Linked DNA regions of Homo sapiens. The protein of the gene in region 3 purifies or fractionates together with the protein of the main gene of each other region. This does not show direct contact. Each region holds a gene or a part of one and is shown on either strand. Other genes may lie near its edges.

Region 1 (4,217 bases), about 150 Mb from region 3:
TTTGCCCAGGGTTACTCAGCTAAGTGGAAGAATATGAACTTGAAGCCATGATGATAGAGTCCATACTTTCCCCTTTGTGCCCAATTTCTTTGTCGTTAGCCTTCAGAGAGGTGGCATATCTTGGTGGTTACAGGTATAGAAGACTCTGAAGCCAGGTTGCCTAAAGTGAGATGACCTTAGGCAATAAATGACTTGACTTTGCATCTCAGAATATAAATGATGGCAAATACTACTGTTATGAACCTCCTGTTTTGTAGGTGAGATACTAAATGTCCAGAAATGCTTTTAAGCTTTCCAAAGACCTGACTTTACAAATGACTATAGCTTACCTCCAGTGCTAGATAGATAACACATATTTCAGAGGGCTGATGGTTTTGGAAAGGTAAAATCATGAGTCCAGTGTTCATTTTTTTCTCTCTTAATTATCAGGTACTTCATAGACAGCAGTCTCAGCCAGCCAAGGAGAGTTCCCCTCCCAGAGAAGAAGCGCCTCCCCCACCTCCTCCGACTGAAGACAGTTGTGCCAAAAAGCCCCGGTCTCGCACAAAGATCTCCTTAGAAGCCCTGGGGATCCTCCAAAGCTTTATTCATGATGTAGGCCTGTACCCAGACCAGGAAGCCATCCACACTCTTTCGGCTCAGCTGGATCTCCCCAAACACACCATCATCAAGTTCTTCCAGAACCAGCGGTACCACGTGAAGCACCACGGGAAGCTGAAAGAGCACCTGGGCTCCGCGGTGGACGTGGCTGAATATAAGGACGAGGAGCTGCTGACCGAGTCAGAGGAGAACGACAGCGAGGAAGGCTCCGAGGAGATGTACAAAGTGGAGGCTGAGGAGGAAAATGCTGACAAAAGCAAGGCAGCACCTGCCGAAATTGACCAGAGATAATGTGAACTTCTACTAGGCAAAGCAATACATCGGTCCAAGGATTTTCTGCTTTCATTTCTTTAAAAGTTTTTTGTTAGTTTGTTTTTTGTTTTTGTTTTTGGGTTTTTTTGGCTTTATTTTTGTCTTTTTATGTCTGTTTTGTTTTTCTTACCCTTTTGGACATTTCTTTGTTGCACAGGATACACCTATAGACTGAATAAGTTCAGTATTTCCGAATCAGACATCGCCTTGGCAAAGACACTAAAGCGTTACACTTTATCCCGTCTCTATGACTGGATCATAGTCATTATAATCACAGGAGACTCTGCCTTCATTATCCTTGCACTTAACGGAAGTTACATCAGGCAAGTACCAGGATGAAAAGAACTATGAAATAAATGAAGGAAGCTACAAGTGTGTGTGTATATGTATATGTATATATCTCTATATTTACATATATATATTAAAATTGCATGGGACAGAGACTTTGCAATCCGAAAGAATAGACTGTGAAATGAGTTCTTAAAGAAAAGACTTGTTTATGTATTAAAAAAACCACTTCACAGTGAGTCGCTTTGGCTTTTTGATAAACTGCGGCCTGCTCTCAGGGTGGGGTGACTATTTTTGAATTCCTATTTATTTTTTGTGTTTGTCCCTGATTTTTTTTTTTTAATTCTATGGCTTCCTATCTGGCAGCTTAATGGGTAATTTTTGAGGTATGTATTTAACAAAATAAACGACACTGCCGAAAAAAAAAAAAGTGAAGTGAAAACAATCAGGGCACATTAAAATGATACAAGTCAAATAAATCTTAAAGACACAATGCACACTTAAAATGACTCAATAAAATGACTTGCTACGTTCCGTTATTCAATTTGTCATTACTGTAGTGAACAGATGCATTTCTGTGGAATTCCAAATAAGTAAAACTGAAATTCAGTGCAGAGAAAACTTTGTCCACTAGTGCAAGTCTTGATCAAATGACATTTTGACATTGGACATATGGAATTCATAGTATGAGCCACATTTTGTTGTGAAATTTATTTACCTGCTTGTGGCTTCAAATCTGAAAATTAATAAGCCTGCTCGTTTAAAAGTTGTTTGTTGTTGCTGTTTTTTTGTCTTTTTGTTTTTTACTAGAAAATAGTTCAGTGTAATATTAAGTTAGAAAAGAAGTTGCTGCCCAGTTAAAGGGGCTCCCTCTCAAATAAATCTCCATCCTTCCCTCTCCCAAAAGACATTTCTGATTTCTGCTTCACTTTGGGCTTCCTCTTCTTCGTACACATTCCATCTACCTAATCAAACATTTTCAGTCCCTGATCTCTCCTGTCCCTTTTCCTGGGATGACAGCCCTAACAAGAACTGTTTTTGAATCGTTGTGCAGCTCCAGGCAATAGAGTATGTGAAGCGATTTCAGTAGAATCACTTACTCATCCTAAAAGAAAACATTATCCCAGTTACCTACATCGCAATTACCTTATGTAAAGCAGAACTAATGCTGACTGGATGTTTAATGGGATGAGCATTAAAGCTGCAATCTACTATAGTACTCCAGATCTCTTTCGGCTTCCTATGAGAAACACCAGAAGCATTACTTTCCACTTCTACTTACAGTAATTGCAAGAGGAGACCTCACATTCAGGACTGGCCTAGTGAACGTAATCCATGCTTTAAACTGGCCATTAAACAGTCCCACATGGTTGGATTTTTTTTTTTTTTTTGAGTTGTGCTTTCACAAAACCTTGTCAAAGACCTCATGCAATATCACTTTGAAAGTTATTTTCTGTTTACTACACAAACATTGTAATATAACTGTTAATACTATTTATATATTTGAAAGGTATAAAAGGTAGGAGTTAAAAAAAAAACCTCTATGTGTAGATATTAACTCAGAACTTACAATATACAGGGAGAAGACATGTTGCAATACAAGCTAATTCTAGCTGCTCAGTAACCTCTGGAGTTTTTAAAGGGACATTTTCCTGTACTTTTTCAAATAATGATGTTTAAAAATTATCTTGACATAAGCGTCATATACCTTTGCAAAAGGATGGTTGTTTGCAGTTAGCCCTGGCCCCATCCTTCCTATTTCTGTAGTATGCTGCAGCTTTAATCAGAAAGTCCATGGTTGCTGCTTCCTGATCTCCGAGTTACTCTTTCCAAATTGTCTTCTTACACTGTTGCTGAAGGTCACTCTGTACACGTAATGGAAACTGATTTTGCCAAGCTCTTACAAGGTGGTTCATCTATCGATGGCATCCGCATTTGGTATCTTTTACACTTCAACCAAAAATTTATTAGGTATTTTTCAATGCTAAGTCTTGCCTTTTATTTTTTAATTTCACTGCCAAGTTTGCAGTGGTTCTAAGTGAATCTGTGGGCATTTTAGCCTGTGGTCTTGCCAGATCTTTGCGAATTACAATGCATATATGTCTATTTATTCAATATCTGTCATATAATATCTATTTGGAAGAAGAAACTTTCTCTTGTAGTGCCTCTTGACAAAGCACAATTTCCCGCCTTTTTTTTTTTTTGTGAAATGAAAAAAACAAATTGTGTTTTATTGCGGTATCAACAATGTGAATAAGGATTAACATATTGTAAATGTTCTTTTTTCCATGTAAATCAACTATCTTTGTTATCACTAAGTGATAATTAATTTTTAACTTATGTGCATTGTTAGGCTGTTAGAATTTTTTGGTTGTTAAAATAAACGCATTCAATAAATATGACTTTGTTTGTCAGTTATTTTACTGGGCATTATCTGCTTTCCCACTTAATTTTTCATGCAGAGAGAGACCTGGTGAGTCTTAGGAAAATTTGTACCCTTATTTTAGAAACAAGACAGTGGTACCTGCAATTACAGATATATGAGTCCTGTACAGTGCATGGATTTAATAGCACATGTGAATGTATGTGTGTCTCTGTGTGTATATAAACACATGCATGCTCACTTCCTTTATCCAATCTTTTGTCATATACAAACAAAACTCAAATGTATAAAGATATATTTATAGGCTGCTGTTTTATTTTTCTAGTGAATATTTTCTGTTTATAATTAAAAAACCACAAATGACTGCGTGTCAGGAAACTTTTGGAGCACATATGTCCATGGTTAATGGACATAATAAAAGTCTTTTATATTTAGAGCTGGGGTACCATAATGTGTGCATGGAGGAATGCTGAAAGGATTGATGTATCTGAGAAATGTGTGAAAATGATTTTTTAGAAAGTACTTACAATGGAAAAAACTGCTCAAAAGACTAATGTTAATAAGGAAAGAGCAAGTGCTTCGCTTCAGAACTGGCAAAGAAAAAGTAAATTAAAAAGTGATTTTGTTTTCTTTT
Region 2 (3,782 bases), on a different chromosome or scaffold from region 3:
TAACATGGTGAAACCCCGTCTCTACTAAAAATACAAAAAAATTATCCGGGCGTAGTGGCGGGCGCCTGTAGTCCCAGCTACTCAAGAGGCTGAGGCAGGAGAATGGCGTGAACCCGGGAGGCGGAGCTTGCAGTGAGCCAAGATCCGGCCACTGCACTCCAGCCTGGGCGACAGAGAGAGACTCTGTCTCAAAGAAAAAGAAAATACATCACACTTGAAGAGCCATGAATGCAGACCTGGATCTGAGGCTGTAAATCATGGGCAGAGCAATGAGGACTAATCATTTCCAGCAAGTCATTTTACAGACAGAGCCCTGATATTCCAGTAATTTTGCTCAAGATAAAAAATAAAATTGGTCATATATAAAAAATAAAGTTGATTATTAATGCGTTCCTATTATTACTTGTTGGGGATTAATAGGCACAATCTCTTCAGCTGCAGAACAAAGGACGCACATGTTTTAGCACAAGTAAAAGGCTGCGATGGAGAGCCCCAGTATCACAGACTCAGAGCAGGACCAGCTGTCTGGCACACACCGCAACCTGAACATACAACATAAGTCAAGGCCATAAGCTGACCCAGAACCCCAAGGATCCCCGAGAGGGTCAACCATGATTAAAGAAACGGAAGAAGCAACTGCTGCAGGAAGAACTGAAAGGACTAGCATGGCAAGCCACGTGCAGCGATGATTCTTCAACACCCAGAGCCTACGGACTCAAGTCTCTCTGAGGTTCTCTCATGATATGCTTTTGGGAAAACGAAGTATTCAGCTATGGGTACACTTTTATAGAATGTGCTACTTCAAAAAGCCAGAAACTTTTCTTACCATCAGGACTTACTCAAAAGAGACAGAAGTAACTTTACCAAAGGTTCTTACACTGCGGTGGTTCCAGACTCAGGGGGAATTGGGGTCCTCTGAAAATCTCTCCCTGTCCCCACCTGCCCTTCACACGGCCTTAGGAGCTATTTTCTAAATGGAGTATGGTTTCATTTCTCCGCTTAGAAACCTCAGACACCTTCCCACAAGCACTAGGCCAAAGCCCACATGCCTCAGGACAGCTAAGCACCTGCGCAGTTAGGCCTGGAAACTGCCAGCTCGTTCCCCAACTCCCTGCCACCCGGTGTACGCTTCAGCTCAGACACCCATGAATCTACGACCATCTTCTGTTCATGAAACTTCTCTTTGATTCCTTCTGAAAAACTCATACTTAACCTGAAAAGCTCAACCTAGATGACAACACAATCCCTGATAAGACCTGTCAGTGTTCTGGCATTCTGTACACGTGTCTCCTTGGCATGTTTGACTTTTCCAGCCTGAGTTGTTTCATGGACCCGTATCTTTACTTTCCGTGTATACAGGCACTTGTTTTCTCAAGTTCTCTCTGCTCTGCACCTACCCTCCTTTTCTGCCTGTCAGCGGTGACATCCCTGCACATCAGGGTGCCTGGCTCCCAGCCATCCGACCCTGAGGACCACTCAGTCTTTCCCTTAGTCCACAGCGAAACCCTGGACATGAACTCTTCTCAAAGTTACTAACTCAATTTCTGCTTTCTGACCATAACCTTCTATGTATGCTACCCTTCAATCTCTCCAATTCCAACTAACCTGCATTGCTACCTCATGCAAACCTCTAGGCCATGAACCCATCTTCACTTCTCAACTAGACTTCAGCTTCAAGGACATGCTCATCCGTGTATTGCTGACTCTCGTGCATCCAATGCCACCAAACTCATGCTAATTCCCACCCAGAATGCACTTGATCTTTCAAGCATCTATAGCAGCACACAAAGAGACAATGTCTAGATCCAGTACAGACTTATGAATTCCAACCATAGGCCTTAACAAAGGCCAAAATCCATAAAAATTAATCCTGTCGACCAACTCTAATGCTGGTGAGAAGTGAGTAAAATAAGGCTGGTAAAACAGCAGGCCTTCTCCTTGGCCTTGCTGTCAGAAGCCTATTAAACACCTCTTCCTCCTCAGTTAATCCCCCTTGCATTGTACTCTGTGTAGGGGACGCCAGGTACACTACAGCACTTATCGCCCTCTGCGTCTTGCTAAGAGCTGCATGACAAGAGGGGAGACGGGCTGTGCAAGGATTGTGCTCACAGCAATCCAAAGTTCTTTATGCATAAGCTCTGTTCTCAGCTACATTTAAAATCCCCCACATAACTTGAAGGTCTGTTTTAGTATGTCAGACTGCACACATATCTGGCTTCCTATTAGATGAGGATTTTAATCCTTCAAATTATCTAGCATAGTGTCTACAACATAAATTCCTAGTAAAGAAATGACGTACCAAGGGTGGGTCAAGATAGCTGTGCGTTGCTGACCACGTCTGGGGAGTGATCAGGCTGTACAGGGGGAACTGCTGCTGGGGGCTGTACATGGGAGGGAAGTAGAACGACGTCGCGTAGCGCTGCTGGGCATACAGGCTCACGTCCAGGGGTCTAAATCCATTCTTTGGCAAAAATGTGTTTATAGCTATTGCCTTTGCTTTTATCCGTGCCTGTTTGAAAATATGTAAGTTTCTATTAGAATACTTAAGAACATCAATTTGCAAATAAACAAAGTATAACCAATGGTCTTGCTTACCTTAATTGGTTTTCCTTGAAAAGTTTTGACTTCTTCTCGAAGGTATTTGTAAGCCTAAGGGCAAAATTAAGTACAAAATTCCATTCGATTAACCTTATGAATAAGAGGCACCAATAGTTCACTCAATAGCTCAAATAGGGAAATATATAATTAAATTATGGTGAACAGAACCTAGAATAATGATTCTTGACACTCCCTGGGTCACAGATCCCTTAAAATAACCTCATAAGAGCTATGGAACGTGTACCCCAAATTCTCACAAACAAGATTTGTACACAATTTTGTAAGTATTAACAGATGCCATAGAAGTCTCCCAAAGACCACTGGCTAAGAACCTTGACCTGGTGGAAAATGATGAATACTGAGTTCCTAGTATTCATCCCAATTTCAGATTAGGAGAATGCAGTTCAGGAAATACCAGACAGGAAGGAAAAGGATTAGGATCATAACATCCAAAAGTCATTCTTGATATATCTCCTTGTTCTTCTCCATGTTAATTCTACATTAAACCCCTATAAAACTGTGAAGGCCCTGCACCTGATTCAATATCATCCGACCACATTCGCCACACGGGCTGGCAGAGCTCACACTCCACTCCACAAAAATGGTTACTCTATCTTCCGTTCCCCTTTTCCCCCTCCATCCAATTAAAACCCATCTTTCAGGTTTCTGTGTTTTCTTTTCTGAACCCCACATACTGTTTATACCATTTAACACTTTATAATATGTGCGTTAGTTTCCTCACAAATAAGATGCTTCCCTTAAAAGCAGGAAAACTACTAACTCCTCACGCCTCCTTACAGAGCTTACTTCTCAATACCATTAAAAGCATCTTCCAAAATACAATGAAGTCTGCTGGGAGATGAAGATTAGGTTCAAATTTCCCCCCAAACACTTTGCAAATAGTAAAACTTCTCTGCCCAGATAGAAGAACAAAACTGATTTTCCTAGGTTGCTTAGCTTGTTGTCCTTAGAAAGTAAAATCACATGCTTTTTATATTGCTATAAAAATTGTCCATACAAATACACTCAAATATTTAAGTTTCTACAACTTGATTTCCTCTGCAGATTATATTCAAACTTACCATCACAAGTAATCTCAATGCCCAAGTTTAGTCCCAACATGCACTAATAGTAAAAACTGGTAAACTATGCAATTCATAGGGTGATGGTGGAAAGAACTTACC
Region 3 (3,782 bases):
CAGGTTTTAAGTTTTCTCTTCCTTATTATTTTTTCAGCTAATTCAACTTTTAAGCTCAGTATCAGTGTTCTGAAACATTTTTGGTAGGTATTCTTTGTGAGAATGACACTTAGCTCCTTTCACCACTCCCAGGGATGATGGAAAGGTGTCTCCTCCACTACTGTATAGATCCTGCAACAAAAGCAGTTTTTGTCCTTTGGAGCTAAAAAGTTAGCAGCTATATTGATATGAAGCCAGTCTTTCAAGAGTAATTGAGTAATCCATCTCGAATGAGGAAATATAAGAAAAAGATTCCTCCAAATGGAATGGGAAAGGAAGAGGGAAGTTGAGAAGTTTTAGGACTGTTTGAGCAAATATGAATGCCTTTTATATATGGCCACAGAAGTAGATTGTGGCTTAGCTCACCTGGTTTTGTCTGTTTTTCTAGTTGATACTAATCATTGTTATTACATTAGTTTCATAGAATTAATTGTGTCCATTCTAGCCACCATATCGTGTGGGCACATCTGACAAAACTGAATGTCTTCATCTTGTTTTCAGCTAATGGTCGAAAGCCATTCAGTAAAACTCACTATTTGGCCTGTTATAATTCACCTAATAAGTTGGTTGGATATTTTGTTTGCTAATTGAACATAAAATGCTGAAGATATTTGCCCATTTCTATTTGTTTAAAGTAAATTTTGTTTTCATGTTGAATTTTCTCTTACTGTGCTTCTTTTATGTGTGAGCACTGTTTTTCTGCATAGTTTTGAACTTCAAGGAGCGGAGTGGTAGAAAATGTGCAAACCCCCAAAATAAGGTCTAGACATTGGATTTTAATTTTTAAATCTCTCCTCTCAGTATCTGATGTTGTTCACTTCTTATATAATGTACAGTCCCTCTATGTCACAATTAATTCTTGATATTTATGTTAAACAAGATAGACTTTTGTTTAAATCTCGGGTACTTGAAGAGTTTTCTCAATTTGATATTAGGGCTACAGAGAGAATTTGTTGAAGTGTTAAGAGAAATACATACTAATTTATATTTTAACCAGAGGTTATCCATGCTCAAGGATTTATTGTGTGCTTAGTGACATGTAATAATCAAGGTCATATAGAGCCCTGAAGTTGAAGTTGCTTGTGTTTCTGTAGTGTGCACATGTATTTGAGACCTTCTTTAATAACCTTCCCAGAAGCTCAGGGCATGCTGACAAAACTCTATGCTTCTCCAGTTTATTTTGTGTTTATTTTATTCTTCAAACAAATGGTAGTTTTTTTGGGAAATGGTCTATATTGTAGCACTGTGCAGTTTTATAAGCCTTTTGGGATTTACTCTTGCCCCTTCTAATACAAGGCAATGTGAATAATTGGAAGAGGTTTAGAGCTGATTTTCTAAAGTGTGTTTTGGTAGAATACTAATTCTGTAGATTGTTAATAGATATTATATGGGATTAAAGGGGTTGTATTGTTAAATAAGTTTGGGAAGTACAGGATTAAATAATATTGAATATGTTTCTTTTGTAGAGGGCTTTTGAGAATTTTTCTTATTGTAGTGTGCTTTGTGAATTCCTAAAAGAGGAATGGATCTACAAAGATTTGAAAAGTCCAGAAACATAGGATAGAACTTATATTTAAGTATATATACCATTGTTCTTGTGTTTACAGAATTTTGGGCATTTTATACTTTTGTTTGCTTTTTTCAGATTAATGATTGGACCCATTGTTAATTTTAAAGGTACCTCTTCTGAAAAGTATCTGAAAGTTGAATAAAAACATTGAGCATATATTTGGAAATGTAACTAACACATTGTTTAAAAATACATTCATCCTATCTTTCTCAGGCTCACTGTATACTGTATAAGGAGGTTTCTCAGTTTTTTTCACTGGAGAGTATTTTTCATATGGATCATTTTCAGGAACTAAAGTTCTGTGTAACCTACTTTGGAAAACATAGATCTGGCTCTAAAATATTCTTCAATTTGGCTATATCATGAAGTGTTCAGTTTTCATAATAGAGAAGAGATATTGCAGAAATTTGCTATGTCATATTCACTGTTAGATTTTGGTTTGATATCATTATCCCAGTTCTGCCAATTACTAGCTCTGTGACTCAGCTTCAGTTTTTGCATCTACAATGGAGATAATAATAGAAGTTAATTAATTTTAAGATGTAGTATTGTAAATTAAATTTGTGTTAATTAAAAAAGTTTTTAAATTTTTTTTAATACCATTATAAATGTAAGGCCAGTCACGGTGGCATACCTTTTGGGAGACCAAAGCGGGAGGATTCATTGAGGCCAGGAGTTTGAGACCAGCCTGGGCAACATAGTGAGACTCTGTCTCTACAAAAAAATTTAAAAATTAGCCAGGCATGGTGGCATGTAGCTGTAGTCCCACCTACTCAGGAGGCTGAAGTGGGCGGATCACTGGAGCCCAGGAGTTCAGTTACAGTGAGCCTTGATTGTGCCACTGCACGTCAGCCTGGGCCACAGAGCAAGACCCTGTATCTAGAAAAATAAATAAGTTTAAAGTGGGAGGGAAATTGGCTAAGGTTATTGCTAAGGAAAATGATATCTTAGAGATTCCTAGAATCATTTAGTTTTAAGGATTGATCACGTTGTTTATTGATTTTGTTAAGCAAAGTATTTTGTAGTAAAGATACTCATTTGTACAAAATATCACAATTTGAGTTTTCTGTCAATGATAATTTTTTTTAAAATGACATTTAAGATGAATGTTTTAAATTATAATAATACCTGTTCACAGTTGAAAATTAAAAACCATGCAGGAGGGTGTAAAAAGCAAAAGCCCCACCACATTCTCTAATCTCAATCCACTAGATGTGTAGAAACCATCCACTATTTAATCTGCCATACTTATTCCCCAGCTGTAACTACTATTAACTGTTTGTAAGAAGTATCTTATGTCAAAGTCTAACTTCTTCTTTTTTTGTTTTTATTTTTTATGGTGGAGCTGTGAGTTCTTTGGAATTGTGAACATTCTTTTGAAATATGGAGCCCAGATAAATGAACTTCATTTGGCATACTGCCTGAAGTACGAGAAGTTTTCGATATTTCGCTACTTTTTGAGGAAAGGTTGCTCATTGGGACCATGGAACCATATATATGAATTTGTAAATCATGCAATTAAAGCACAAGCAAAATATAAGGAGTGGTTGCCACATCTTCTGGTTGCTGGATTTGACCCACTGATTCTACTGTGCAATTCTTGGTAAGAAATTCTACCATAGTCGGGCTTACCCTTTTTGAGTGAATATACTACCTTTAATTTCCTTCAGTTGAGATCCCAGTGTTTGGAGAAGGGTATCTGTGTTTTGACTGTGATGGCTGAATTGGGGTGAAGGAGTTGGTGGCTGCTAATAATGAGATTGAATTTAAGCACAGAGTCCTGGGAAAAGATAAGAGGTGACTGGAAGGAGGTATGAGGGGATAGATGCCAGTGAGCTCTTCTAAGAGGGATATTTCTTCGACTTCTGGGCATTCCTCATGCTTCTCTTAAAATGCCTGTAACAGAAGAAAGAATGCTTGGAGCTGCTTTGGAGATTTCTGTTGTCTATCCCTCAGCCAACCAGACTGAATAGTCCTGCCGTACAGCATCCTGTGTATTTGAAACTTGTCACCCTTAATAAATACTGATTTCTGAAGTATCTGAGACTATAGTTTGTTTACTTCAGGTAGTTCCTCAGAAGGGCAACCCTCAGTGAGAGATTATACAAACGCCGAGTCAGAATTTTTTGGGGGGCAAGAAGAAGACTCTTTCTATTAACCTCCAGCCTTTGCA
Region 4 (3,782 bases), on a different chromosome or scaffold from region 3:
GCTGGGGATCCGGAAACACTGGAAGAGGGGACGGCTCAGGCAGCATGGCAGTGTTTAGCCACAGAGAAAGCTGCCCACCGATTGTGCTCAGAGATGATTTTGTGGGTCTAGGCCTAAACAGTCTGTACCCACACGGGTACATGATGAGGGTCCCCGGTAAGCCCACTGCTGCCAACTTCCTAACTCACTCTTCGGCCTTAGGCATGACCCGTCTTCTCTCTGGGCCTCAGTTTTCCTAACTGTACAGTGGGTGAAGAGGACACCTGCAGCCCCACATCCTCGGGCTCACCATCCTGAAGCTGTGGGTTGGGAGCCAGGCAAGAAGAGACCTGAAGGTCTCAACGTACACCCTCTTTGTTCCAAGGGCATCGGGAGCCTACTTCCATGGGTCCTTCTTGAAAGGGGTGCTGTGGAGCTCGGGGCAGAGGACACTATGACCCATGCAAGTCTCCTCCTTCCCAATTAGGCAGTGGAGCCTGATTAAAAGGGGTGCTGCCTGCCCCCTCCCACCCGATCCCCATCGACGAGATTTCCCTTCATCAGAATCTCACATTCTCCAGAAATTAATTTGATGCCTCATGTTATCAATTAATTGAATCTCGTTGGGAGAGAGAGCTCCGCGAGGTGAGGCGAGCTTCAGCTTGGCCCTTGTGTGCCGCCATCCCCCCTCCCCCTCACACCAGGGCAGCCTTCTCCTCCCCCATTCCTTTTTTTCTGCCTTTCTTTTAATTGCACTTATTTTCTAAAATAAAACCACTGCTCTGTGCCCCTTTGCCCAGTTTGGCTTGGATGGATACCCATGGACTGGGTACTGGCTGGGATTTGCCCTTTCAGAGGTGGGGGCAGGAGGACTTCCCCTCCCCTGGACCCTGTCTGATCTCTCCTTAAGTAAACAGAATCTCACCCTTTGGGAATTTGGCCGTGATCCTGTGTGCTCCAGGGGCTTCTGGTGAGAAACTTAGGAGGACTAGGGGAGGGAGGAAGAGCTGGGAACAGACTGCACCCTAGTTGGGGACAGAGGAGGTAGAGAAGGACCAAGCTAGGGACCTTTTAACCCTCAGGATTTTGTCATTCAGAAGCTGCTGCCCCTGCCAGAACTGATCCATTAAAACACAGGGCAGAGGGCATAGGTGTGTGGTACCTCCAAGCCTCCCAACAGTCAGGTCAGATATCTGCAGGAACAAGCCCTCAGCATTTTCAAGGACACTTGGAAGCCCTTGCTCTGCCCCCTGCATGGAAGATGGGGGAAGGAAGTTCTAATAGGACATCCCTATTAGGAAACCTGGGAGGTTGTTGTGGCAGGTAGAGCTAGGTAGTCACCAGGCCCTGACTGAGGAACTGTGCTTTGCCGTTTCACATACCTCCTTGTTCTTATCCCCACAACAACCCTGAAAGATTCTCCAGGCAGTGGTAATTATCACTCTCATTTGATAGGTGAAGTACCCAGGCCCAGAGAGGTTACCTGACTTGCCCCGAGTCACAGTTAACTGGAACTTGCCTTTCTGAAATGCTGGCCATAAGGGCTGAGGTCACAAGTGGACTAACTTCATCCCTGCTGAGTTTTGTTGACCCACACACAGTTCATTACAATGGTAAATTTCACATAAATATCCCCACTTCTGCTCCTTTTGAAAAACCCAAGCCCTGTCAACACTGAGCCTGCATTTCTGTGTGGAAAGGATGGACTGGGATTGAGTGGCAGCTGCCTCCTCGTGCCCTCCTCACCTGGCCTCCTAAGTGACCAGCCTAGCCCCTGAAGGCATTTTGGTTAGCAGCTTTGACATGGAGATTCACCTGTCCCCAGTATTCCTCAAGGAGAATCTAGTGTGGGACAGTGTCTGAAGGACTCTGCAGGGTCTAGCCAGGCACAGTGGCTCATGCCTGTAGTCCCAGCACTTTGGGAGGCCAAGGCAGGTGAATCACCTGAGGTCAGTGGTTCAAGACCATCCTGGCCAACATGGCGAAACCCCATCTCTACTAAAAATACAAAAGTTAGCCGGGCGTGGTGGCAGGCACCTGTAGTCCCAGCTACTCAGGAGGCTGAGGCAGGAGAATTGCTTGAACCCGGGAGGCGGAGGTTGCAGTGAGCCGAGATTGTGCCACTGCACTCTAGCCTGGGCGACAGAATGAGACTCTGCCTCCAAAAAAAAAAAAGACTGCAGGGTCTGTACAAGAAGATCTCAGAGAGAGGACCTATAAGGACACCCTGACCCAAATCTAATTCCCACACAGCTACTTAATAACTGATGGTGGGATGGGCGCAGTGGCTCATGCCTGTAATCCCAGCACTTGGGAGGCCAAAGTGGGAGGATCAGTTGAGCTCAGTTTGAGACCAGCCTGGGCAATATGGTGAAACCCCCTCTCTACAAAAAATACAAAAATTAGGGTGTGGTGGCATGTGACTGTAGTCCCAGCTACTCGGGAGGCTGAGACCAGAGGATCACTTAAGCCAAGGAGGAAAGGTTGCAGTGAGTGAGCCGAGATCGCGCTACTGCACTCCAGTCTGAGCGACACAGAGTGAGACCCTGTCTCAAAAAAAAAAAGAACTGATGGTTGTGGGTGATTCTTTTTGCCTTCTTTCTACCACAGAGGTTAGGTCTTTGTACCATAAGGCCTTGTGTCTCCGGGGGCCTGTTTCAAGATGAAATCAGCGCATCCCTGCCAGGGTGAGCCCCTCTATGATAAAGTCATCACTTGCCCCCTACATCTGAGGAAATGAAGGGAGGGGCCAAGGCATGTCGGGGCAGGCTGGGCAGAACAGCCAGGGGCCCAGAAATGGCCATACTCAGTGGTTTGTCCCAGGCCCTCTAGAGCCCCTCCTGTGCCCAAAGGAAACCCTGGTGCCAAAGGCACCACCAGAACCAGGCTCCAGATGGCCATTCAGGCCCTGGGCGAATTGCCCCTACCCCTTAACCAGCAGGCCCCCCACATAAGACGTCACTATTTAATTAGCCGTCTCTGATTAACCAAACTTGGCATTCGGCTCCTCTTGCCCTCATCTTTCCCAGCTCCGAATCAATGGCTTTGATATGCTAATTAGGGAGTAATTTAATTTCAAAAGGCCGCAATTAACAAGGGTGTTGTGGACATGCTGTAGTTAAGCGGAGTAATCTAATTTGCATTAGTAACAAGCAGGGACTAATTAGAAGCTTAATTAGACACTTAGATGGCTCTTATGTTTACTTTCTTAATGAGATGGAGTGGGATCTTTGGTTCTCTTTCTTTTTTTCCCCCTGTATTGTTAATTCTTTTTTTTGGTCTGTGTAGTAGGAAGGGGTATTGAGGGAGGCCACCTTGCCAGGGCCTGTGGGAGCGTTTCAGGGATGGAGCCAGTAAAAGGTAAGGTGGAGGGTGGTGGTAGGGGTAAGGGAAGGCTTGGATTCCAGAGTGACTCGGGGAGTTAGGACGCGGGGAGGAGCACTGGTTTAGGAGTCAGGAGAGCCACCTGGTTTCAGTTTGGCTCAGTCACTTAGCAGTCAGGTAACCTTGTCAAGTCTTTGGCATCTTTGAAGTGTGGTTCCATCCTCTGTCAAAATGAGCGCAAAATTGCATGGGGGAGAGAGGAGGGAGGGGCTATAGGAAAGCACTCTTGGGGACTCTGTGAATGTTTTTTTTTTTTTTTTGAAATGGAGTCTCGCTCTGTTGCCCAGGCTGGAGTGCAGTGGCGTCATCTTGGCTCACTGCAAGCTCCACCTCCCAGGTTCACACCATTCTCCTGCCTCAGTCTCCTGAGTAGCTGGGACTTACAGGCGCCCGCCAACACGCCCAGCTAATTTTTTGTA

The links.
Region 1: the proteins of ASB3 (region 3) and SATB2 purify together in Homo sapiens (affinity purification with mass spectrometry, with the first as the bait; 2 studies listed by BioGRID). This does not show direct contact.
Region 2: the proteins of ASB3 (region 3) and LARP4B purify together in Homo sapiens (affinity purification with mass spectrometry, with the first as the bait; 2 studies listed by BioGRID). This does not show direct contact.
Region 4: the proteins of ASB3 (region 3) and FOXP4 purify together in Homo sapiens (affinity purification with mass spectrometry, with the first as the bait; 2 studies listed by BioGRID). This does not show direct contact.

Annotation. Positions count from the first base shown.
Region 1 is NC_000002.12:199,268,885-199,273,101, reverse strand, and holds the end of SATB2 (DNA-binding protein SATB2), read left to right. Parts: intron 1-429; coding exon 430-891; 3' UTR 892-3,597; downstream 3,598-4,217. UniProt on the Homo sapiens protein: Binds to DNA, at nuclear matrix- or scaffold-associated regions. Thought to recognize the sugar-phosphate structure of double-stranded DNA.
Region 2 is NC_000010.11:827,086-830,867, forward strand, and holds part of LARP4B (la-related protein 4B), read right to left. Parts: coding exon 3,782-3,782; intron 2,650-3,781; coding exon 2,596-2,649; intron 2,510-2,595; coding exon 2,300-2,509; intron 1-2,299. UniProt on the Homo sapiens protein: Stimulates mRNA translation.
Region 3 is NC_000002.12:53,699,701-53,703,482, reverse strand, and holds part of ASB3 (ankyrin repeat and SOCS box protein 3), read left to right. Parts: intron 1-2,954; coding exon 2,955-3,212; intron 3,213-3,782. Other genes in the region: GPR75-ASB3 protein, read left to right, coding at 2,955-3,212. UniProt on the Homo sapiens protein: Probable substrate-recognition component of a SCF-like ECS (Elongin-Cullin-SOCS-box protein) E3 ubiquitin-protein ligase complex which mediates the ubiquitination and subsequent proteasomal degradation of target proteins. Recognizes TNFRSF1B.
Region 4 is NC_000006.12:41,552,719-41,556,500, forward strand, and holds part of FOXP4 (forkhead box protein P4), read left to right. Parts: intron 1-3,782. UniProt on the Homo sapiens protein: Transcriptional repressor that represses lung-specific expression.